Homo sapiens: one gene and its partner. The protein of the gene in region 2 interacts with the protein of the main gene of each other region in a biochemical or structural test. Each region holds a gene or a part of one and is shown on either strand. Other genes may lie near its edges. The genes, in order: SLCO1B3 and CCKBR.

Region 1 (11,915 bases), on a different chromosome or scaffold from region 2:
GTAAAGAATGTCACTTTTTGACTGGTCCAGGAACTCCAAGCTTTCTTAAGACCTCAGAAAGAGAAGAATTCACCCAATTCACATATGTATCTGCAGGCACAGATAAATCCTTGGCTAGGCTTCAGGCATTCACAAACGTCTAATCTTACATTCGTAGTGCAAAAAGATCCAGCAAAGCCAATTCACAAAAAGAGAGAGAGCTCCTATATGGCAAATGATTATTCTTGTTGCACTTTATACAAATAATTAAACCAAGTGTAAAAGTACTAAAATTTATTTTACCAATAAATTGGTCCTACTATGATTTTCTGTTTAATAAAACTGGGGAATTGAAGAGAGAAAAATTATGCTTCTATAAATTATAGTACCTGTTGTTTGATTCTAGTCTTGCCTAAGGTTTATCAGTTTTTATTATTTTCTACAATATGAAATAAAGTCTAAAATTTTTCCTGACTACAAGTCTCCAAATAATGTTTTCAATTTTTTCTTTCTTTTCTCCTTTCCTTTCATTTTCCTTTTCCCCCTATTGTCCAATTTGAAATTACTAAATATTAAGCTGTGATTTTCTTAAGCCATGGGGATGCAAACTAGACAACTTAAACTTCAGAAGAAAATAACAGAAACCGATTTATACACACGAAACATTTTCATATGTGCCTACTGACAACACACTTCAGAGTGATATGGCCTATATCAGTTTTCCAGGATTGTTCCTTCTACTGTGTGTTTGTCTCTCTTCCTCCTCCTATTTTTTTCTTTGCAGGACATAAGATTTCACAACCTGCTAAAAATGAGCATTCCTAATAACGTGGGATCTATTGGTCTAGGAATAAAACATCACAGCCATGCGAGATCAGACAAAATTCAAGACCAGGGAGTAATTTTCTTCTAAAATGCTTTCTTCAAAAGATTTTAAAAGGAAAAAGGCAGGGGTATGAAAGGAAAATAAAAACTTGAGACCCCAATTCACTATGACATAAGAAACAAAATTAAGCTAAAAGCTGAGTTCTGCAAAAAGATGCCCTTCCTTAAGCAGATAGCTACAGATAAAAGGTTAAATATTTCCACAGGTAGCTAGTCTATGTTCACCTTATATTGTGTAAAGTGCCGATTTACTGAGCACAAGACAAATAAATAACTGACCATTCCCTTACCTGCTAGTTTTTCTCTTGCAACATGTAGATTCAGTAACGTGGCCATACATTGCCACTGTCAGGTCTCTGAGCCCAAGCCAAGCCATCCCATCCCCTGTGACTTGCACGTATACGCCGAGATGGCCTGAAGTAACTGAAGAATCACAAAAGAAGTGAAAGGCCCTGCCCCGCCTTAACTGATGACATTCCACCATTGTGATTTGTTCCTGCCCCACCTTAACTGAGTGACTAACCCTTTGAATTTCCTTCTCCTGGCTCAGAAGCTCCCCCACCGAGCACCTTGTGACCCCCGCCCCTGCCCACCAGAGAACAACCCCCTTTGACTGTAATTTTCCTTTACCTTCCCAAATCCTATAAAACGGCCCCACCCTTATCTCCCTTCACTGACTCTCTTTTCGGACTCAGCCCAACCGCATCCAGGTGAAATAAACAGCTTTATTGCTCACACAAAGCCTGTTTGGTGGTCTCTTCACATGGACACACATGAAATTTGGTGCCGTGACTTGGATCGGGGGACCTCCCTTGGGAGATCAATCCCCCGTCCTCCTGCTCTTTGCTCCGTGAGAAAGATCCATCTACGACCTCAGGTCCTCAGACCGACCAGCCCAAGAAACATCTCACCAATTTCAAATCCGGTAAGCGGCCTCTTTTTACTCTCTTCTCCAACTTCCTTCACTATCCCTCAACCTCTTTCTCCTTTCAATCTTGACACCACACTTCAATCTCTCCCTTCTCTTAATTTCAATTCCTTTCATTTTCGGATAGAGACAAAGGAGACATGTTTTATCCGTGGACCCAAAACTCCGGTGCCGGTCACGGACTGGGAAGGCAGCCTTCCCTTGGTGTTTAATCATTGCAGGGATGCCTCTCTGATTATTCACCCACATTTCAAAGGTGTCAGACCACGCAGGGATGCCTGCCTTGGTCCTTCACCCTTAGCCGCAAGTCCCGCTTTTCTGGGGGAGGGGCAAGTACCCCAACCCCTTCTCTCCATGTCTCTACCCCTTCTCTGCTTTTCTGGGGGAGGGGCAAGTACCCCTCAACCCCTTCTCCTTCACCCTTAGTGGCAAGTCCCGCTTTTCTAGGGGGCAAGAACCCCCAATCCCTTATTTCCGTGCCCCAACCCTTTCTCTGCTTTTCTGGAGGGCAAGAAACCCCCATCACTTCTCCGTGTCTCTACTCTTTTCTCTGGGCTTGCCTCCTTCACTATGGACTAGCTTCCACCTTCCATTCCTCCTTCTTCTCCCTTAGCCTGTATTCTTAAGAACTTAAAACCTCTTCAACTCTCACCTGACCTAAAATCTAAGCGTCTTTTTTCTTCTGCAATGCCGCTTGACCCCAGTACAAACTCGACAGTAGTTACAAATTGCCAGAAAAACGGCACTTTCAATTTTTCCATCCTACAAGACCTAAATAATTCTTGTCGTAAAACGGGCAAATGGTCTGAGGTGCCTGATGTCCAGGCATTCTTTTACACATCAGTCCCTTCCTAGTCTCTGCCCAATGCAATTCATCCCAAATCTTCCTTCTTTCCCTCCCGCCTGTCCCCTCAGGCCCAACCCCAAGCGTCGCTGAGTCTTTCTAATCTTCCTTTTCTACAGACCCATCTGACCTCTCCCCTCCTCGCCAGGCCGAGCTAGTTCCCAATTCTTCCTCAGCCTCTGCTCCTCCACCCTATAAACTTTTTATCGCCTCCCCTCCTCACACCTGATCCGGCTTACAGTTTTGTTCCATGACTACCCCTCCCCCACCTGCCCAGCAATTTACTCTTAAAAAGGTGGCTGGAGCCAAAGGCATAGTCAAGGTTAATGCTCCTTTTTCTTTATCCCAAATCAGAAGCGTTTAGGCTCTTTTTCATCAAATATAAAAACCCAGCCCAGTTCATGGCTCATTCGGCAGCAACCCTGAGATGCTTTACAGCCCTAGACCCTAAAAGGTCAAAAGGCCATCTTATTCTCAATATACATTTTATTACCCAATCTGCTCCTGACATTAAATAAAACTCCAAAAATTGGAATCTGGCCCTCAAACCCCATAACAGGACTTAATTAACCTCACTTTCAAGGTGTACAGTAATAAAACAAAGTTGCAATTCCTTGCCTCCACTGTGAGACAAACCCCAGCCACATCTCCAGCACACAAGAACTTCCAAACGCCTGAACCTCAGTGGCCAGGCATTCCTCCAGAACCTCCTCCCCCAGGAGCTTGCTACAAGTGCCAGAAATCTGACCACCAGGCCAAGTAATGCCCGCAGCCCAGGATTCCTCCTAAGCCGTGTCCCATCTGTGTGGGACCCCAGTGGAAATCGGACTGTTCAACTCACCTGGCAGCCACTCCCAGAGCCCCTGGAACTCTGGCCCAAGGCTCTCTGACTGACTCCTTCTTGGCGTAGCGGCTGAAGACTGATGCTGCCTGATCACCTCAGAAGCCCCATAGACCATCACGGACGCCGAGCTTTAGGTAACTCTCACAGTGGAGGGTAAGTCCGTCCCCTTCTTAATCAATATGGAGGCTACCCACTCCACATTACCTTCTTTTCAAGGGCCTGTTTCCCTTGCCTCCATAACTGTTGTGGGTATTGACAGCCAGGCTTCTAAACCTCTTAAAACTCCCCAACTCTGGTGCCAACTTAGACAATACTCTTTTATGCACTCTTTTTTAGTTATCCCCACCTGCCCAGTTCCCTTATTAGGCCGAGATATTTTAACCAAATTATCTGCTTCCCTGACTATTCCTGGACTACAGCCGCATCTCATTGCTGCCCTTCTTCCCAATCCAAAGCCTCCTTTGCATCCTCTTCTTGTATTCCCCCACCTTAACCCACAAGTATAAGATACCTCTACTCCCTCCTTGGTGACCGATCATGCACCCCTTATCATCTCATTAAAACCTAATCACCCTTACCCCGCTCAGTGCCAATATCCCATTACAGCATGCTTTGAAAGGATTAAAGCCTGTTATCACTCGCCTGCTACAGCATGGCCTTTTAAAGCCTATAAACTCTCCTTACAATTCCCCCATTTTACCTGTCCTAAAACCAGACAAGCCTTACAAGTTAGCTCAGGATCTATGCCTTATCAACCAAATTATTTTGCCTATCCACCTCATGGTACCAAACCCATATACTCTACTATCCTCAATACCTCCCTCCACAATCCATTATTCTGTTCTGGATCTCAAACATGCTTTCTTTACTATTCTTTTGCACCAGTCATCCAAGCCTCTCTTCGCTTTCACTTGGACTGACCCTGACACCCATCAGGCTCAGCAAATTACCTGGGCTGCACTGCCACAAGGCTTCACAGACAGACCCCATTACTTCAGTCAAGCGCAAATTTCATCCTCATCTGTTACCTATCTCGGCATAATTCTCGTAAAAACACACATGCTCTCCCTGATGATCGTGTCCGATTAATCTCCCAAACCTCAATCCCTTACAAAACAACAACTCCTTTCCTTCCTAGGCATGGTTAATGTGGTCAGAATTCTTACACAAGAGCCAGGACCGCACCCTGTAGCCTTTCTGTCCAAACAACTTGACCTTACTGTTTTAGCCTAGCCCTCATGTCCGCGTGCAGCGGCTGCCGCTGCTTTAGTACTTTTAGAGGCCCTCAAAATCACAAACTATGCTCAACTCACTCTCTACATTTCTCATAACTTCCAAAATCTATTTTCTTCCTCATACCTGACGCATATACTTTCTGCTCCCTGGCTCCTTCAGCTGTACTCACTCTTTGTTAAGTCCCACAATTACCATTGTTCCTGGCCCGGACTTCAATCCAGCCTCCCACATTATTCCAGACACCACACCTGACCCTCATGACTGCATCTCTCTGATCCACCTGATGTTCATCCCATTTCCCCACATTTCCTTCGTCCCTGTTTCTCACCCTGATCACGCTTGATTTATTGATGGCAGTTCCACCAGGCCTAATCACCACACACCAGCAAAGGCAGGCTATGCTATAGTACAAGCCACTAGCCCGCCTCTTAGAACCTTTCATTTCCTTTCCATCGTAGAAATCTATCCTCAAGGAAATAACTTCTTAGTGTTCCATCTGCTATTCCATCTGCTACTCCTCAAGGATTATTCAGGCCCCTTCCCTACACAACAAGCTCGAGGATTTGCCCCCACCCAGGACTGGCAAATTAGCTTTACTCAACATACCCCGAGTCCCAAAAACTAAAATACCTCTTTGTCTAAGTAGACACTTTCACTAGATAGGTAGAGGCCTTTCCTATAGGGTCTGAGAAGGCCACTGCAGTCATTTCTTCCCTTCTGTCAGACATAATTCCTCAGTTTAGCCTTCCCACCTCTATACAGTCTGATAAAAGACCAGCCCTTATTAGTCAAATCAGTCAAGCATTTTTTTAGGCTCTTAGTATCCAGTGACAAACTAATAGTCTATTAAAAACACACCTCACCAAGCTCAGCCACCAACTTAAAAAGGACTGGACACTACTTTTACCACTTTCCCTTCTCAGAAGTCAGACCTGTCCTCAGAATGCTACAAGGTACAGCCCATTTAAGCTCCTGTATAGACGCTCCTTTTTATTAGGCCCCAGTCTCATTCCAGACACCAGACCAACTTAGACTGTGCCCCAAAAAAACTTTTCATCCCTACTATCTTCTGTCTAGTCATACTCCTATTCACCGTTCTCAACTACTCATACATGCCCTGCTCTTGTTTACACTGCTGGTTTACACCGTTTCTCCAAGCCATCACAGCTGATATCTCCTGGTGCTATCCCCAAACTGCCACTCTAGAAGAGTGACTACAGAGTGGCCAGGCACGGTGGCTCAAGCTGTAATCCCAGCACTTTCGGAGGCCGAGGCAGGCGGATCACGAGGTCAGGAGATCGAGACCATCCTGGCTAACATGGTGAAACCTCATCTCTACTACAAATAAAAAAAAAAATTAGCTGGGTGTGGTGGCGGGTGCCTGTAGTCCCAGCTACTCAGGAGGCTGAGGCAGGATAATGGCATGAACCCAGCAGGTGGAGCTTGCAGTGAGCCGAGATCATGCCACTGCACTCCAGCCTGGGTGACAGAGCGAGACTCCATCTCAAAAAAAAATTATACTATAGAGTTATAGTAACCAAAACAGCATGGTACTGGCATATAAACAGACACATAGACCAATGAATCAGAATAGAGAACCCAGAAACAAATCCACACACCTACAGTGAGCTTATTCTTGACAAAGGTGCCAGGAACATTCAATGGGGAAAAGACAGTCACTTCAATAAATGGTGCTAGGATGAAACTAGACCCCTATTTCTAGCCATATACAAAAACAAATCAAAATGAACTAAAGACTTAAATCTAAAGACCTCAACCCATAAAACTACCTCAATAAAATATTGGGGAAACTCTCCAGGACGTTCATCTGGGCAAAAATTTCTTGAGCAAATTTCTTACCCCAGAAACACAGGCAACCAAAGAAAAATTGACAAACAGGATCACATCTAGTTAAAATGTTTCTGCATAGAAAAGGATACAATCAACAAAGTGAAGAGACAACCCACAGAGTAGGAGAAAATATTTGTAAACTACCCATCTGTCAAGGAATTAATCACCAGAATGTCTAAGTAGATCAAACAATTCTATAGGACCAAATCTAATAATCCGATCAAAAGGTAGGCAAAATATTTGAATATACATTTCTCAAAAGAAGACATACAAATAGCACACAGGCATAGGAAGAAGTGCTCAACATCAGTGATCATCAGAGAAATGCAAATCAATACTACAATGAGATGCTATCTCACCCCCAGTTAAAATGGCTTATATCCCAAAGACAGGCAATAACAAATGCTGGTGAGGTTGTGGAGTAAAAGGAATTCCTTGTACACTGTTGGTAGCAATAAAAATTAGTAGGACCACTATGAAGAACAGTCTGGAGGTTCCTCAAGGAACTAAAAATTGAGCTACCACGTGATCCAGCAATCCCACTGCTGGGTATATACCCAAAAGAAAGCGAATTCGTATATCTAAGATTATCTGTACTTCCATGTTTGTTGCAGCACTGTTTACAATAACTAAGATATGGAAGCAATGTAAGTGTGCATCAGCAGATGAATGCGTAAAAAAAAGTGGGACATATACACAATGGAGTACTATTCAGCTATAGAAAGAATGAAATCTAGTCATTTGCAACAAAATGAACTGGAGATCATTATGTTAACTGAAATAATCCAGGCACAGAAAGACAAACATTGCATGTTCTCAGTTATTTGTGGGATCTAAACATCAAAACAATTGAATTCATGGACACAGTGAGTAGAAGGATGGTTACCAGAGGCTGGAAAGGGTCATGGGGGTGTGGGGGTAGGAAGATGGGGATGATTTATGGGTACAAAAAATAGTTAAAAAGAATGAATAAGACCTACTATTTGATAGCCCACAGGGTGACTATAGTCAATTACTTAACTGTACCTTTTAAAATAAAGTATAATTGGATGGTGTGCAACTCAATGAAAAAATGCTTGAGGAAATGGATGCCGCATTGTTCATTATTTGCTTATTTCACATTGCATGCCTGTACCAAATCATCTCATGTACCCCATAAACATACATACCTACTACATACCCACAAAAATTAAAAATTAAAAAGTTAAAAATAAATAAACCTTTATTCATCAAAAAATTCTAGCAAAGAAATAACTTCAATCAGATTAAAAACTGATTTAAATCAATATAGGGATTATTTTGTTAATATTTTAATGTACGCTTCAATGGAAAAATTGTAATATGAGATATAATGTTCTTTTTGACAGTTAGTGGCCTTTCTATACATAAAAATTTTCCATTAACTTATTTTAGTTTGAAAATATAAAACCCATTCTACCTTGAATCCATTGCAGCGTCTTGTTTTCTTTTTCTCTGAAGATGCTGACTCTGCTGTTTTATTCAAATGTTGATGTTGGTCCATTATTAAACTACAGATACCAAGTGAATATTTTTAATTGTTGCTGATGCTTGGTTTGAAATGATCACCTGTTAAAAAAGAAAAAGTATAATTTATTTTACTTTAACAATATACAATTTAAAAATAGGAAAAGCCACAAGCTCAATATCAATCAATCAATCATTCTCTAATATTCATTCAGGGCCTGCTATTTCCTGACCACAGGACTAGGTCAATGCTGGACACAGAGGAGGAAAGACAGAGACAAACTCCTAGCCTAAAGAGATTATAATTTGCTTAGAAAAATAATTTTCATAGAGAGAAATTTGAAACAAGTAAATAATATAAAACCACACACTAGATTGTATGAACAACAATTTTAAATTATAGAAATTAAAATTTTTATATTTTCTACATATCCAGATTACAAGATTTATGAAAGGAAATTTATGTTTACGTTATCCTTATAAGTTTATAAAGTGCCAAATGATGACTTGCACATAGTGGATACTCAAAATGGGTTGAAAAATAATGTAAATAATAATGATTAGGATAGCCTCAGTCAGTTTCATAGAGGAGATGCCTATGGAACAAGGCTCAAAAAGCAGATAAAGTTTGGATTTGTTTAAAAGAGCAAAATATATTCCAAGTATCTCTCAGAGAGACTCTGGCCATGCTTGACCTTACCATCATCATGATCTTACTGTATTTAGGGTTTATCCACTTATTTTTCAAGAGAAAATACATGCATGTAGTTGAAAAATGCAAAAAAAAAAAAAAAGAAAAGAAAAGAAAAGGCAAGATTCTGCTTATAACCTTTGTCCCCTTATCCAGAAATCTGGTATGCTTTTTTATTTTTTTTTTTTGAGACGGAGTCTTGCTCTGTCTCCCGGGCTGGAGGGCAGTAGCGTGATCTCGGCTCACTGTAAGCTCTGCCTCCCAGGTTCACGCCATTCTCCTGCCTCAGCCTCCTGAGTAGCTGGGACCACAGGCGCAGGTGCGTGCCACAACGCCCGGCTAATTGTTTTGTATTTTTAGTAGAGACAGGGTTTCACCGTGTTAGCCAGCATGGTCTCGATCTCCTGACCTCCTGATCCGCCCGCCTCGGCCTCCCAAAGTGCTGGGATTACAGGCGTGAACCACCGCGCCCAGCCTTAATATGCATTTTTAATTAAATACATAATATTTTCTCTTTTAATATAAATGTAAGCATACCAGTATTACTGCACTCTACCTTTTTATCTTCTGTATATACTTTATATTAATAAAAGTCCTCATTTTGCTTATGGTAGCAGGGTATTCTGTTGTTCATAATATATGTAACTAGTTCTATATCGTTAACTATTTAGCTTATATCTAATTATTTCATATTAGAAAATGTTCTTAATATGTTATATGTCATTTTCTGTGTGGTCATATCTGTAGGATAAATTCCTACAAGTGAAGTTTTGAAGTCAAAGTATATGAGAAATCATAAGTTTCAGAGTTATTAAGCCCCTATTTTAAAGACCAGTAAAATGAGTCAACTTTTTACGTCAGTTGACTCTTTTATATAGAACAGTGGAATATTTATAAGGTTTAGAGATGTATTCTTGTTCATACATATATGCATAACACATATTTATGTATATAAAGTATATAAGCAGACACATAACATAGATATAGGTATATGTTATGTATATAGCATATATATGTGGATACATGCTATGTAGATACTTGCTATGTAGCTGCTCATATAGATACCTTAGATATGTAAATATCTAAGTATGTAAATATCAATGTTATCTATATAAGCATCCGATTTGTAATAGGATACTGATTATATAATATGTATGATATAGGTTATATGTACAATTGATTCTCACGTTTTGCAATAATTATGTTCCATAAAGTTGCTGGGAACACTGAATTTGCAAATATTAATCCATCATTCCTAGAAGAGATACAGTGTTAGGTGACTGTGTGGCTTTGGTCACAATATTTTAATCAACGGATCAATACATAACTTAATACATAATGTTTTATGTATGTTTTTGTTTAAAGACACCTTAGTATATACTGTTGATTCATTAACATTGAATTAGTGGCCAATAGCACTGTAGTTCATGCCTGAGGGAAACTTACATAGCATATGTACCTCTTCTGTCAGGCCCTCTAGGAGGTGGGAACAACGGGACAACACTTCAGGGCTATGCTTGAAGTCCATTTAAAACAGTAAACTCAGCATCGCAAAGCACAACTATGGAAACAATGTGGCGATAAATGCACTGTGAAGTTTATAGTATGGGAGCTGAGAGAGGAAGGCAGAGCTTCACTTTGTTCCACTTCAACTGGAAACAGAGCAACTCAAATTTTTCACCACTCTGCTCATGCATGCCAATGATCACAAAAGCCCAGCAGTATTAATTTTGGTGTCACAAACAAATTTTAGTGTTTAGACAAATTTTCTAATATAGAATCTGTGAATAATGAAGATCTACTGCATATTTTATGCATTAATTTACTCAACAAGGATTTATTGATTCTCTATATTATAAATGCATAAAAACCATAAATATATATCATGCATATTTAGTGGATAATGCATGAATATGGAAAAATCAATATCTGAAGATATTATCACTTATGTATATGCGAGTGTATATAAATACACTCATGAATGGAGAAACCCATACCTATGTATCTCTAAGAGAAGTTCAATTATTCCACTTTTTGTATGTGTTTTGTAGGTAAAGTGAGGAAAAAAATCAATAATTTGGTGGTCTCAAGGTAATAAGCAGCCCCTTAATAAATTTACACCACTTTTTCCACGAATATCTCTGTTTCTTCATAATTTAAAAGTTGGAAAATATTTATTTTTTACCAATTAATTCTATAATTGCAAATCTTTTTGAACGACTTGCAAGGCAGATAGTCTTCCTTCAGCTTTAGAGTTTTCTTTTTCTTTATACTAAACAAATATTCTTGAAGGCTTGAAGACTATTATCTCACCACTCAAGCCTTGTTTCTTTCAATTGATTAATTTCTACTTGTCCTGTCTTCCAGCTTGCTTTCTTTCCTATGCATATCATGTCCATTCTTGGAATCATTCAAAGATCCCTCTTACAACAAAAATAAAACTTACACTTCCTATTTGAGGGTCTTCACAGCCTAAATGAATCCAAGTTTTTAGTCCCATTTCCCAATACAACCATAAGCACTTGCAGATGTATGGAACCACTGTCCCAACAGAAAAGCTCTCTACCTTCATGTATATGTCTTCCATTCCTGGAATGTCCTTCCCTATCTCTTGGCTGTAATGCGGCTCCAAATCACACCACTTTAATGTTTCCCTATTTACCTCTAGTTGAAATAAACTCTCTCATCCTCTCATCCTTCTGTACCACTGGAGAACATACCCGAATAATCATTACTTTTTTCTGTTATTTCCCGTACTTTCCAAGACAACTATTCCACACCTCTCTCTTTTATGTTCAGATAAAATACCCATCCAGAAAAATAAGAAATGTGGGCACTTGGTTTCTCATCTCTCAGAAAGGTTAAATTGTATCAAGTAGGCCGGGAGCAGTGACTCATGCCTGTAATCCCAGCACTTTGGGAGGCCGAGGCGGGCAGATCACCTGAGGTTGGGAGTTCGAGACCAGCCTGACCAACACAGAGAAACCCCATTTCTGCCAAAAATACAAAATTAGCTGGGTGTGGTGGTACATGCCTGTAATCTCAGCTACTCTGGAAGCTCAGGCAGGAGAATCACTTGAACCCAGGAGGCTGAGGTTGTGGTGAGCTGAAATCACGCCATTGCACTCCAGCCTGGGCAACAAGAGCGAAACTCCTTCTCAAAAAAAAAAAA
Region 2 (11,915 bases):
TGCTGATTGGGAAGGGTCACTGTGAGGTCAAACTAGGAGCATCCCAGAATCAGTCCTGTGCCAGGCTCCATAGTCTCTAAAACAATCAGTGCCATTAATCTATGTGTGTGAGAGGCAGGTCAGCCCTTGTCAGAGTTCCCACTGTGTAGAAATAGTTCACTGCTAGGGACGCTGTGTCTCTCCAAGGTCAGTGTCATGTTTCTATGGGCCAGGCTCAGTCCCATATCAGAGGCATGCCTCCTTTCCCATGTACTGCTCCATTCTTATTCCTCTTGTGTCAGGTAAGCTACCTTTTCCTGTGCGTTGGGGTTAGTCCATGCTTTGGGTGTTGGTTTCCTGTGTCAGTTGTGGTTTGTGTTTCGTATGTCTGGAAGGGTCAGTGCATGTCATTTGCCCTGCCTCAACCCCCACGGCCCCTCTACTCCTCAGCCAGGGCCCAGTGTGCTGATGGTGGTGTAGCTAAGCCTGGACAGCGAAGCAATGGAGGGAGTGGGAGGGTCCTCATCGGGAAGAGCCCTGGGGCGAGCTCGTGGAGGCCGGGGGCAGCAGCGAGCGCAAGTTTCCAGGCAGGCCTGGCGAAAGCGACGGTGCATGAAGCAGTAGACCAGGGGGTTGACACAGGCCGAGGCGTAGCTCAGCAAGTGAATGAAGGAGATAGGAGCACCCGAGAGTGCTCGGTGTGCACCCGGGCCATCAAAGGCGCGCCACGTGTTGGCACTATAAACTGGCAACCAACACAGAAAAAAAAGCACAACGATCACCAGCAACATTCGCACCACGCGCTTCTTAGCCAGCAGCTTGGCCTGGGTGGGCCGGGAGCCGGATCCCGGCCCAGGAGCCGTCAGCGCCGTCAGCTCCAGGGCAGGCCGGGAACGTGGAAGTTGCACGTAGCAGCCATCGCTGTCTTCGCCAACCGCGCCAGTCTCAGGCCGGCAACGCCCGTTCTGGTGAACAGCCCCTGAGCACAAAGGGTGGGCGGTCAGAGAAAAAGGCGAGTCCCCCCAGTCTCCAGCCCAGTCCCCACCTGACCTCCGCTCCCAGCTCAACTCCATTTCCAGCTTCCTTCTCACCCTCACCTTCATTTCAGTCCCACCCACTCCAGCAGGCCCCGTCGCCCTCCAAAGCTCCGCCTCGCCCAGATTTTGCTCACGTGGTCCAGCCCCACCTGGCAGCCCGCCTTGGTTTCGGACCCTGCTTTGGCTGTCGCTGTCACTGTCGCCGTCAAAGCGAAGCCCTAAGTAGAGCTCGCGAGAGATAAGCCCGTAGGCCACGGCCATAACCACACCCGGGATGAAGAACAAGAGCAGAAGCAGCAGTACGGACCTGAAGGCAACACAGACAGATCACTCGGGTTTCTGTCCAGCTGTAATCACAGATGGAGAAAAAGCCAAGGACTAGTGTTTCTAGGGCTGTGGCCAGGTACCTGAAGTAGGAGTAGGATTTGGGGGTGCCGCTGGGAAGGGAGAGAGAACTGGGGAGGGGCCCCAAACTGGAACTCCAGGGTGGTGGATGCAGAATAGGAGTTGGCGTGGTAATTCTCCGGGAAGCTGGAGGAAGATTCTGGGCAATGGTCGTAAGCATCTAATAGGGGTGAGAAAGGAATTCCTAGGATAGTTTATGGGCAAGCTCACCAGGTCTGGCGGACCCGCGCACTGGGCCAGCGATGCACGCACTGCAGCACACGAGGCCCCACTGGTTGCACGACAGTGTACACGGGGTAGGGCACCATGAGTAGTCCGGACAGCAGCCACGTGGCTACAATCACGCGAGCCGCGTGGGAGCGCGTCTGCCACACTCGTGCCTGCAGTGGTCGGCAGATGGCGCTGTACCGCTCCAGTGCGATGGCCACGAGGCTTAGCGTGGACACACTCACAGACACCCCTAAACAAGGGAAGAGAAAGGAAGGAGTCACCTAGGAAACTTGCACTACACAAGCATCAGTGGGACTTCCTCACACCCCTCCCTGCCAACCGGGGAAGACCCCTACATCCACAAGAGCTTTAGGCGGGGAGAGTGGCAAGTGGGGGTGGGGTGGTTGTCTCACCCACCCATGAGGTAGGAAACCGCCTTGCAGATGACGGTGCCAAAGATGAATGTGCCCATGAGATTGGGCAGGAGGGTGAAGGGCATGCAAGCCACAGCCAGCAGGAGGTCGCTGACTGCCAGTGAGAGGAGGAAGGCATTGGTGACAGTCCTCAGGCGGCGGCTCAGTCCCAGGACCACGATGATGAGCATATTTCCTCCAACGCTCATCAGGAAGATCACTGCGTAAAGAGTGATTCTAATGGCCAGCTCCAATTCTGGGTAAGAAAAGGGAGAGGTGGCAGTAGGGGGTCAGCCTTCATTCAGTCAAATCCCCCTCCTTCCGTCTTATCCCCAACCCTCACTACCCAGCCAGATGCCTACATTCCCCACCGATGAACTGCTCAGTAAATGGTGAACTTGAATCCTTTAGCCTTCTAACCCCTTGAGGTTTGGTTAAATTGGCCCAACTCTGCCCTTCCTTAAGAAAGCCTGTCTCTTCTCAAGGTTCGTTCCAAATCTTTCCTTCTTTCTGCAGACAAACTTCTTAAGAGGATATTTGTGTCTTCTCATTTACTCTTCATTCCATTACAATACAATATTCTGTGCCCTATCAGTGCATACTTCTTCCCAAGTACACTAATCTTTAACTGCTAAATTCAAAGGTCCTTTCTTAGCCTACTCTATTTGACCCCGCTAGAGTATTCTACACTGTTGACAACCCACTACCTTTTGAATCACATCAGATCATGTCTTTATTCTCTAAAAACAAAAGCAAAAAAAAAAAAAAAAAAAATACTTCACTTACTCTCTACTGTCTGCAACCCCTCAGAATATCATCAAGATCCTCCCAGAAGGGACTTCTTTCTCTCCCACCCCCTCCCTGTACAGCAGGCATTTAAGCAAGCCACTGGATGACTCAATTTCTTGAATGCATCATTTGCACTTGTGACTCTCTCCCTGCTCAAGCTGGTTTCTCAGACCGGAATACTCTTTTACCAACCCTCCTCACAACTTCTACCCCTCATCACAAGCTTATTTTCTGTATCTGGTGAATTCCTATTCATCCCTTGTTGGTCAAGACTCAAATTGACTGCTACTTCTTCTGTAAGGCCCTTCTGTAAGGCCCTTCTACTCTCCTCTTTCTCTGACCCATGCCTGTTTCTTACACAACTATTACAGCCTATTTTACTTCTGCCTTGTATTTTAATTCTCTCCAAACATTCATTCTCACTCTATAAACATTTACAGAGGACTCCCTTTGTGCTAGGCACTGGGGACAAAGAGATGAACATGACAAGATCCCTGCCATTTGAGAGCTCACAGTGGGGAAGTAAACTCAGATACATAAACAGATGTGATAAGGAGTGAGGCTGAAGGATGTATAAGGTGCTGTTGGAGCTCATAGGAGGGACACCTGTGTGAGGCAGAGGGGCTGGGAGGCTGACCCCATTCTTTTGTGTCATTGTCTATTAAAAGATGGATTAATCTTTGGACCACCACATCACAGCCAAGCAGATTTAGATAAAATCGAATTGGATTGAACAGGACTGAATTACTCACACCTATGGCCTCAGCATGAGAGGGATTAGAGCTGGAAGGTAGAGAGGGCAGGGGACAGAGCCTCCTAGATTGCAGAGAAGGAAAGCCTCAAAGCTGCAGCCCCCTCTTCCAGAGCCCCATACTTTGACTGATTCTCATTTTAGCTCCCAAATTGAAAACTACAGCCATGCACTGAATAACGATGTTTTGGTAAATGACCAATTTCATATACGATGGTGGTCTCATAAGATTGTAATGAACAGCTGAGTGCAGTGGCTTATCTTTGTAATCCCAGCACTTTGAGAGGCCAAGGCGGGAGGATCACCTGAGGCCAGGAGCTTGAGATCAGCCTGAGCAACATAGCAAAGTCCCGTCTCTACAAAACATAAAAAATTAGCTGGGTGTGGTGATACGTGCCTATAGTCATAGCTACTCAGGAGTTTGAGGCAGAAAGATTGCTTGAACCCAGGAGTTCAAGGCTGCAATGAGCTATGATAGTGCCACTGCACTCCAGCCTGCACAACAGAGTGAGACTCTGTCTCAAACAAAACCCAAAATAACAACAACAAAAGATTATAATGGAGCTGAAAAGTTTCTATCACCTAGTAATGTTATTGTAACATTGCAGCATAATGCATTACGTATGTGTTTGTGGGGATACTGGTATAAACAAACCTACTGTGCTGTCAGTCATATAAAAGCCTAGCACATACAATGATGTACATAATACTTGATAGTGATAATAAATGACTGTGTGACTGGTTGATGTATTTACTACATTATACTTTCAATCATTATTTTAGAGTATACTCTTACTTATTTTTTTAAAAAAGTTAACTATAAAACAGACTCAGGCAGGTCCTTTAAGATGTATTCCAGAATAAAGCACCGTTATTATAGGAGATGACAGCTCCATGTGTGGTGTTGCCCTGATGACCTTCCAGTGGGACAAGATGTAGAGGTGGAAGATGGCAATATTTATCCTGACCCTGTGTAGCCCAATGTGTGTGTTTGTGTCTTGGTTTTAACAGAAAGGTTTTTTTTTTTTCTAAAGTTAAAAACAGAAAAATGCTTATAGGATAAGAGTATAAAAAAAGAAAATATTTTTGTATAGCCATACAATGTGTTTTTTGTTTTACACTGTGTTATTACAAAAGAGTCAAAAAGTTTATAAAGTAAAAAGTTACAGTATGCTAAGTTTAATTTATTATTAAATACATTTAGTGTAGCCTAAGTATCCAGTGTTTATAAAGTCTACAGTAGTGTACAGTAATGTCCTAGGCCTTTACTTTCACTCACCACTCATCACTGACTTAGCCAGAGCAACATCTACTCCTGCAAGTTCCATTAACGGTACGTGCCCTATACAGGTGTATGATGGTTTATCTTTTATGCTGTATTTTCACTGTACCTTTTCTATGTTTAGATACACAAATACATAACATTGTGTTACTCTTCCCTACAATATTCAGCACAGTAATATACTGTACAGGTTTGCAGCCTGGGAGCAGTAGGCTATACCGTATAGCCTAGGTATGTAGTAGGCTATACCTTCTAGGTTTGTGTGACAAACACTCTATGATGTTTACACAATGAAATCACCTAATGATGCATTTCTCAGAAGGTATCCCCATCATTAGTTAATGCATGACTGTATTTTCTCATAACAAAAACCAATTTATTTAGAAATTGTAGGCATCAAATAAATGCTATTTATAAAAACTTCCAAACCGAACTCAGCAGTAACATTCTTTGCTCAAGACCACACACCTGATAAGGGGCTGAATCAGAATAGAAGCCAAGTCCCTGATCCCTAATGTGCTTTGCCTCCTACTGTTTGTTCCTGCAGTACTCTGTTATTCATCATACTACCTCCATGTTTTTTGTTTGTTTGTTTGTTTTTGTTTTTGTTTTTGAGATGGAGTTTTGCTCTTGTTGCCCAGGCTGGAGTGCAATGGCATGATCTTGGCTCACCGCAACCTTTGCCTCCTGGGTTCAAGCGATTCTCCTGCCTCAGCCTCCTGAGTAGCTAGAATTACAGGCATGCACCACCACGCCCGGCTAATTTTGTATTTTTAGTAGAGATGGGTTTCTCCATATTGGTAAGGCTGGTCTCGAACTCCCGACCTCAGGTGATCACCTGCTTTGGCCTCCCAAAGTGCTGGGATTACAGGTTTGAGCCACTACGCCTGGCCCATACTGCCTCCTTCTTAATCAAATCTCAATCTAAATGCCTCTTTCTCCCTCTCTCTATACTCAACCATGGCATTTTTCACTGTATTAGTATGTATGTAATTCTCTGTCTTCCCCACTAGACTAGGAGCTTCTTGAGGACAGTGGCAAGGTCCATCTCGCTCTCCAGTATATCCCTAGCACTCATCATCCCTAGCACAGGGGAGGCAGTCAACACATGCTTGTTAATGAATCTTGGATGATTCTGTCTTTCAAGACAGAAGTGCACCTGCTTTCCCCCTCCTCATCCATCCGTCATCTCTGCAGAGGTGCTCCAGCATGCCCTTTCTTCTTCTTCTTTGCCTCTGTCTTTTTGGAGACACATGTTGGAAGGTCCTTGTGGGGGTCAGTGAGAGGTTATGATTTCAGATGCATAACTTTTGTTTTTTATATGCAAACCATCTATATTTCCTTTAGAAGCTGGGCCTCTCTCTGTAAGGAAGGATTACAGAAGGCTTATAGGTGACAAAATTTGAGGGGAGTAAGTGTGTATGGTGGAGAATAAAGGACTTTTAGGAGGGAGACCTCTGTCAGAGAGGTCCTTGGACTCAGAAAAGAGCTGGTGGTTTATCTTGGACTCACTGTTTCTTCTCCAAATCCATTGTCCTCCCACCCCCAGCCTCCACCTCTTTAATCTTTCTAGTTCCATTATCTTGCTTACATCTGCCCTGGATGTCTTTCTTCAACTAATTATTGATGCAATTCGCCACACCTCAAATTGGTACAGTACTGTGAAGCATGAAAAGCAATTTCTCATTCATTCATCCAGCTGATGTCCCATGTGTGTGCCCTTGAACTTGGCTAATTGTGATAGACCATAAAGATGGAGCTAAATATTACCCTTATAAAGTTTGCAATATGCTTGGGGACTCCTGAAATTTATAAGACAAAGTCCCAGTAAAAATGACCAGCAACTGTGCAGTGTTCTGCTGTTTTACTGGACATTCCTAGCTATTATCTTATTTCCAGCCACCACTGTCTCCACACGTCTTTGCTGTTGAACAGTTCAGAAATGTGAAAAATTCTAATTAAAAGCAATTTTAGAGCCAGGAGTTTGGAGAGGCAGAGCGAGGGATAAATAGATGAAGTACAGGGGATTTTTAGGGCAGTGAAACTATTCTGTGTGATACTGTAATGATGGATACATGCCATTATACATTTGTCAAAACCTATAGAACCATACAACACAAAAAGTGAACCCTAATGTAAACTCTAGAATTTAGAGAATAATGTATTGATATTGGCTCATAAATTGTGACACATGTACCACACTAATGTAAGCTGTTAATAATAGGGTAAATTCTGTGTATATGTGTGGTTGTGTGTGTATGGGCACTCTGTAATTTTTGTAAACTTAAAACTGCTCTAAAAATAATCCATTAGTTTAAAAAGTCATGCACAAAATAAATCAGACTTAGACTTGTATGCGTGTGTGTGTGTGTGTGTGTATTGATGTGTGTTTGCATGGTGGAATATGAGTGATGACAGTGGCTTCAGTGACTAGGAAACAGGCATGGGTAGAAGGATGGGAGATAGCACCTGCTGGGGTACATCCACAAGTGCCTTGATAAGTCTACCCGTGAGCATCATCTCATCATCTTCCTGGGGATGAGGAAAACTGGCATCAGACCAGGCGACTCAGAAGATTGGGACAGTTCAGTTCTTCTCCTGGTGTTTAGAAGATCTGTATTTGTTCTGTCTAGATAATGGCAGAGAAGTATGAGTGCAAAAATCCAGACAACGTGACATAAAATGAAAACCAAGACTTTCTAAGGAAAAACTCCACAGAACACTGAAGCTGCTGATGCCTTAAATTCTGCATTCTACTGGCAGGTTTGATCTGTTCACCCATGCACACAGACATCAAAGTAATACCCTTGTCTCTATGATAAGCAGGGATCACATCCAACTGACTGTGGGTAGTGGCTGGGTGAATGGGGGAATCCACATAGTGGGTACTGAGGGAGCAGAAGTAATATGCAAGGGTGTGTAGGTAATATCAGAGTGAGTGTTGGGCATACTTTAATCTTTGAAATAGTATATGGGTAGGTGAAAGTCACGCTTATTTCTGTGGGACATATCTGGAGAATGGTAACATCTACATGCTTATAGGTAATATCCGATTGAATATGGCTTACATTTAAGTTTAGATAATATCTGAGTCACTGTAGTAACATTTGAAAGAGCAAGGGTTAATATCCAACTCTCTGTAGATAACATTTTGTAGGTAACATCTTCAGGAAGCATAGATTACATTCAGAGGTCTACTTGTGAGTAGTGGAATATCCAAATAATGATAGAAATTGCTGACTGAGCAGAAGTAATATCCAAGTATGTATGGGTAGTATTTGAGTACAGATGTTAGATGTTAACATGTTAACTAAATTAAGATGTTAATCTGGGCCAGACATGGTGGCTTATATCTGTAATCCCAGCACTTTGGAAGGCTGAGGTGGGCAGATCTCTTAAGCCAAGGATTTAGAGACCAGCCTGGGCAACATGGAAAAACCCTATCTCTACAAAAAATACAAAAAATTAGCCACTTGTGGTGGCACATGCCTGTAGTCCCAGCTATTTAGGGGGTTGAGGTGGGAGGATCACTTGAGCCTGCGGAGGTCAAGACTGCAATGAGCCATGATCATGCTACTGCACCCCAGCCTGGGCAACAGAGGGAGACTGCCTCAAAAAAAAAAAAAAAAAAAAGATGTTAATCTGAGTAAATGAAATAACTGAGCACCTGAGTGAATGTAAGTAATATTTAAGCTTTTGTGGGTATTATCTGAGTATGTGAGAGTAATATTTGTAATTTTATGGGTAGTATCTGGGAAAAGCTTACTTAAGTGAGCATAGGTAATATCTGGTTGTGTGTGGATAATAATAAAATGAAAGTGAGTAGTGTTTGATGGATGGGTAACACCAAAATGACTTCGGACAATATTAAAGTGAGTGTGGTAACATTTGTCTTTCTGTGGGTACTATCTGAGTGAACATGGGTAATACTCAAGTCTGCATGGATTATATAAGGAGAATAAAGTGGTAACATCCAAATTCCTATTGGTAACATTGGAGTGAACCTGGGTAACCTATGCATCTGCAGGGATAATATCTGAATGAGTGTGGCTGACAGGGTCTCTGTGTGTAACATCTGACTGGCTGGGTAACATCCAAATGTGTGAGGAGCATTTAGATAAGTGAGGCAAATTTTTGCACCTGTGCTCTGAATTGCGTCACATCCCGCTTTCACAGGGAATCTTCTCTATTGACTATCCCCTTTCTTATCTGCACCTTCAATCTTCCTCTCTCGGCCCAATCACCAACAAACATTTTAAAAAGCTCTTGTTTTAAAATGCGTGCACACACACGCGCACACACGTAACAAACCTATGCACATACCCACTCCCCCCTTCCTCAATCTCATGCTATTTTTGGCAATATCCTGCTTTTCTTTCTCTCTCTCTCTCTCTCTCTCTCTCTCTCTCTCTCTCTTTCTTTGCCTACCAGACTTCTTGAAAGTTTTGGCTACATACCTTGGTTCACTTCTCATAACTCCTTCTCTCACCAGTCCAATCTTTAACCTACCATAGTCAAGCCTCAATACCTACAACTCCTAAATATTTTCTTGTTATTGAATGTGAAGGATGCTGTTCTGACTGTCCTGTTTTTTATTTATGTAACTTATGTCAATAGCATTTGATATCACTTACCCCAACCTGCTTGAAACTCTCTTTTTCTTGCTTTCTGGAAGGGCGTAGCTCCTGCCTTTCTGATGGTTTCATCTGAATCTCCTTCATAAATTCTCCTTTCTCTGCCTGGCTTTTAAATAATGGTCTTATGCAGAGTCTTGACCTAGGACCTATTTTCTTCTCATTCTATACAAAATTTTATGATTTTAACTATTCTCGGGGCTTCTACATCCTGTAGGCAAAGACCTTCTTCAAGTCTGTATTTCCACCTCAGACCTCTCCTGTAAGTTCCAGACCCCTGGATTCAACAGCTTACTAGGTAACCTCACCTGGATGCCCCACTAACATTTAAACTCAATGGGTTCCAAACTGAATTTATAATTCCCTCTTCCAAACCTGTTTCTGCTGTTTTGTTATCTTTCTCATTGTATACAATTGCTATAGCACCAATATCCATTCAGTTGTCCAAGTTAGAAATCTGAATGTCATCCCTTGACCTCTTCCATCCTCTCTGCTTCTAATCTGTTGATTCCATTTCCAGAAGAGGCTCTCAAATCTATCCACCTCTCTCCATCTCCCTTGCCATTACCTTAGTCTCAGCTAGCATCATCTTTCACCCAGAACAGTGTAATATAGTAACCTTGTAAAGTATCCCCCTGCCTTCCATCTTATGTCTTCCAATCCGTTCTCCACATTATAGAACTAATCCTGGTAGTACTACCGAATCTTTTAGTAGTTCCTATTGCCCTCGGGAGAAAGTCCATGTTCCATGGTCAGGCCTAGCAGGCTCTCTGCAAACCCTCTAGGCTGGTCTCCAGCCTGTTCATTATTCCCTTCTTAAGATATATGTTCTAGTCACTCAAAACTATGTCACAGTGGATAAAAGTGCCATGAATTCAAACTTTGAGCTTCTTATACATCTTGTCCTTTTATTTGGGATGCTTTCTGCCTCTTCTGCCCGTTCACTTGGCTGGCTCTCCCATATGTATATGTGTGTGTGTGTGTGTGTGTGTGTGTGTGTGTGTGTATATATATTTTTTTTTTTTTTTTTTTTTGCCAACAGGAAGCTTAGAGCCAGCCTCCCTAATTTTTTTGACTTTGTAGCTCATTTCCTCAAGAGGCCAACTTTAATTCTCAAGGAGGCTGGGCTGGGCTAGAGGTGTTCCACTTGTGTTCCCACTATCTTTTCCCTGTCAAGGCTCTTCCACTTTGTGCTGCAATCCCCTGCTTTTCTGTCTCGCCCATTAAACTTTGAGCTCTGTGAAGTAGGAATTGTGTCGGTTTTGTTCAACTTACATTCCCACTGCCTAGCACAATCTCTGGTTCAATAAATATTGGCTGAATGACAGAATCCAAGTGTGAGTGTGTAACAACTCGGCTGAGAAAGCATAGATTATTTCGTGGGGTAAATAAATACTTGGATTACAATTTATTCCAACTTTCCCTTTTTGAGTTTAGAAAAATTTCCTTCTGCTTAACATTGCTCCTTCACCTAGAATCCCACTCCTTCCTTTTCTGCCTACTCAACTTCAAGACCCAGCTCTAAGGTTCTAGCCTCTGTGAAGTTCTTTTGGTGCCCACAGTTTAGACCCTTTCATGGGACTTCCATTGTGTCTGTGATTTTTCCATTTGCTTGGTTTCTCTCTGCACTTGGCTATGGGCCATGAGGGTCCAGACTGGGTCTAGTTTGCCCTGTGCCCCCAGCACCTAGCCTAGGGCTGGAGAGAGAGCTTGGAAGATAGCTGGAGACATTACTTGCAGACAAAGAGAGAGGGCACAGAGCCTCGAAAGCTCCAACTAGGGAGGCAGAGGGGTTTGAGAAGGAGTGAAATGGAGGCAGGCAGCTCTAAGGAGCATCCCCTAGTGTCCAGCCTAATTCAGATTTGAGGATCTTTTTTGGGATGGCTGGGGGCTGGGGTGTCAGATGTGATCACAACTTCAGCTTCGCATTCAAGCTTTCCAGAGTGCTCCCTCCCTCAACCAGCCCCCTTCTTTTCCCAGTCCTGCCTTCCTTTCTTCCTTCCCTTCTCTGTTGTGGCTCTGTGAACTGGATGTAAGAGGGAAAAGGAGATCTGCAGGGTTGGCAAGAGGAGGTCCTCGCCTTCTGACTGGTGTCTAGGAGGGGCTGCGTGTTGGGGAAGGGGCTGTGCTTTGGGGTGAGCAGGGGCTCTAGGTGTATTCAGGGGACCAGGATGTGAAGGAGTTCCGACCAGGTGGTGTGAAGCTGTGATGAAGTTGTAGGCTGTGGGGGTGAAGGTGTGAGGGGAGCTGTTTGGGGGCTGAGGGAGTACTATGAGAGGCACGGTGTGGACGTTTGAGAAGGTAGTGTGGAGCTCGTTGGGGGGACTCTATTAGTGTTCTGGGGTACAGTGAGAAATAGCTTGTGGGGGGGGCTGAGGGAGGCACCCACCTCGTGTCCCGGCTCCGCGAATGCGA

Evidence for each region.
Region 1: the proteins of CCKBR (region 2) and SLCO1B3 form a complex in vitro, tested with the Homo sapiens proteins (one study listed by BioGRID).

Annotation. Positions count from the first base shown.
Region 1 is NC_000012.12:20,811,913-20,823,827, reverse strand, and holds part of SLCO1B3 (solute carrier organic anion transporter family member 1B3), read right to left. Parts: intron 10,305-11,915; 5' UTR 10,190-10,304; intron 8,155-10,189; 5' UTR 8,090-8,154; coding exon 8,006-8,089; intron 1,281-8,005; exon of another isoform or gene 1,155-1,280; intron 1-1,154. Other genes in the region: SLCO1B3-SLCO1B7 readthrough transcript protein, read right to left, coding at 8,006-8,089. UniProt on the Homo sapiens protein: Mediates the Na(+)-independent uptake of organic anions.
Region 2 is NC_000011.10:6,260,054-6,271,968, reverse strand, and holds part of CCKBR (gastrin/cholecystokinin type B receptor), read right to left. Parts: coding exon 11,890-11,915; intron 2,301-11,889; coding exon 2,049-2,300; intron 1,882-2,048; coding exon 1,632-1,881; intron 1,324-1,631; coding exon 1,166-1,323; coding exon of another isoform or gene 959-1,165; coding exon 426-958; 3' UTR 1-425. UniProt on the Homo sapiens protein: Receptor for gastrin and cholecystokinin. The CCK-B receptors occur throughout the central nervous system where they modulate anxiety, analgesia, arousal, and neuroleptic activity.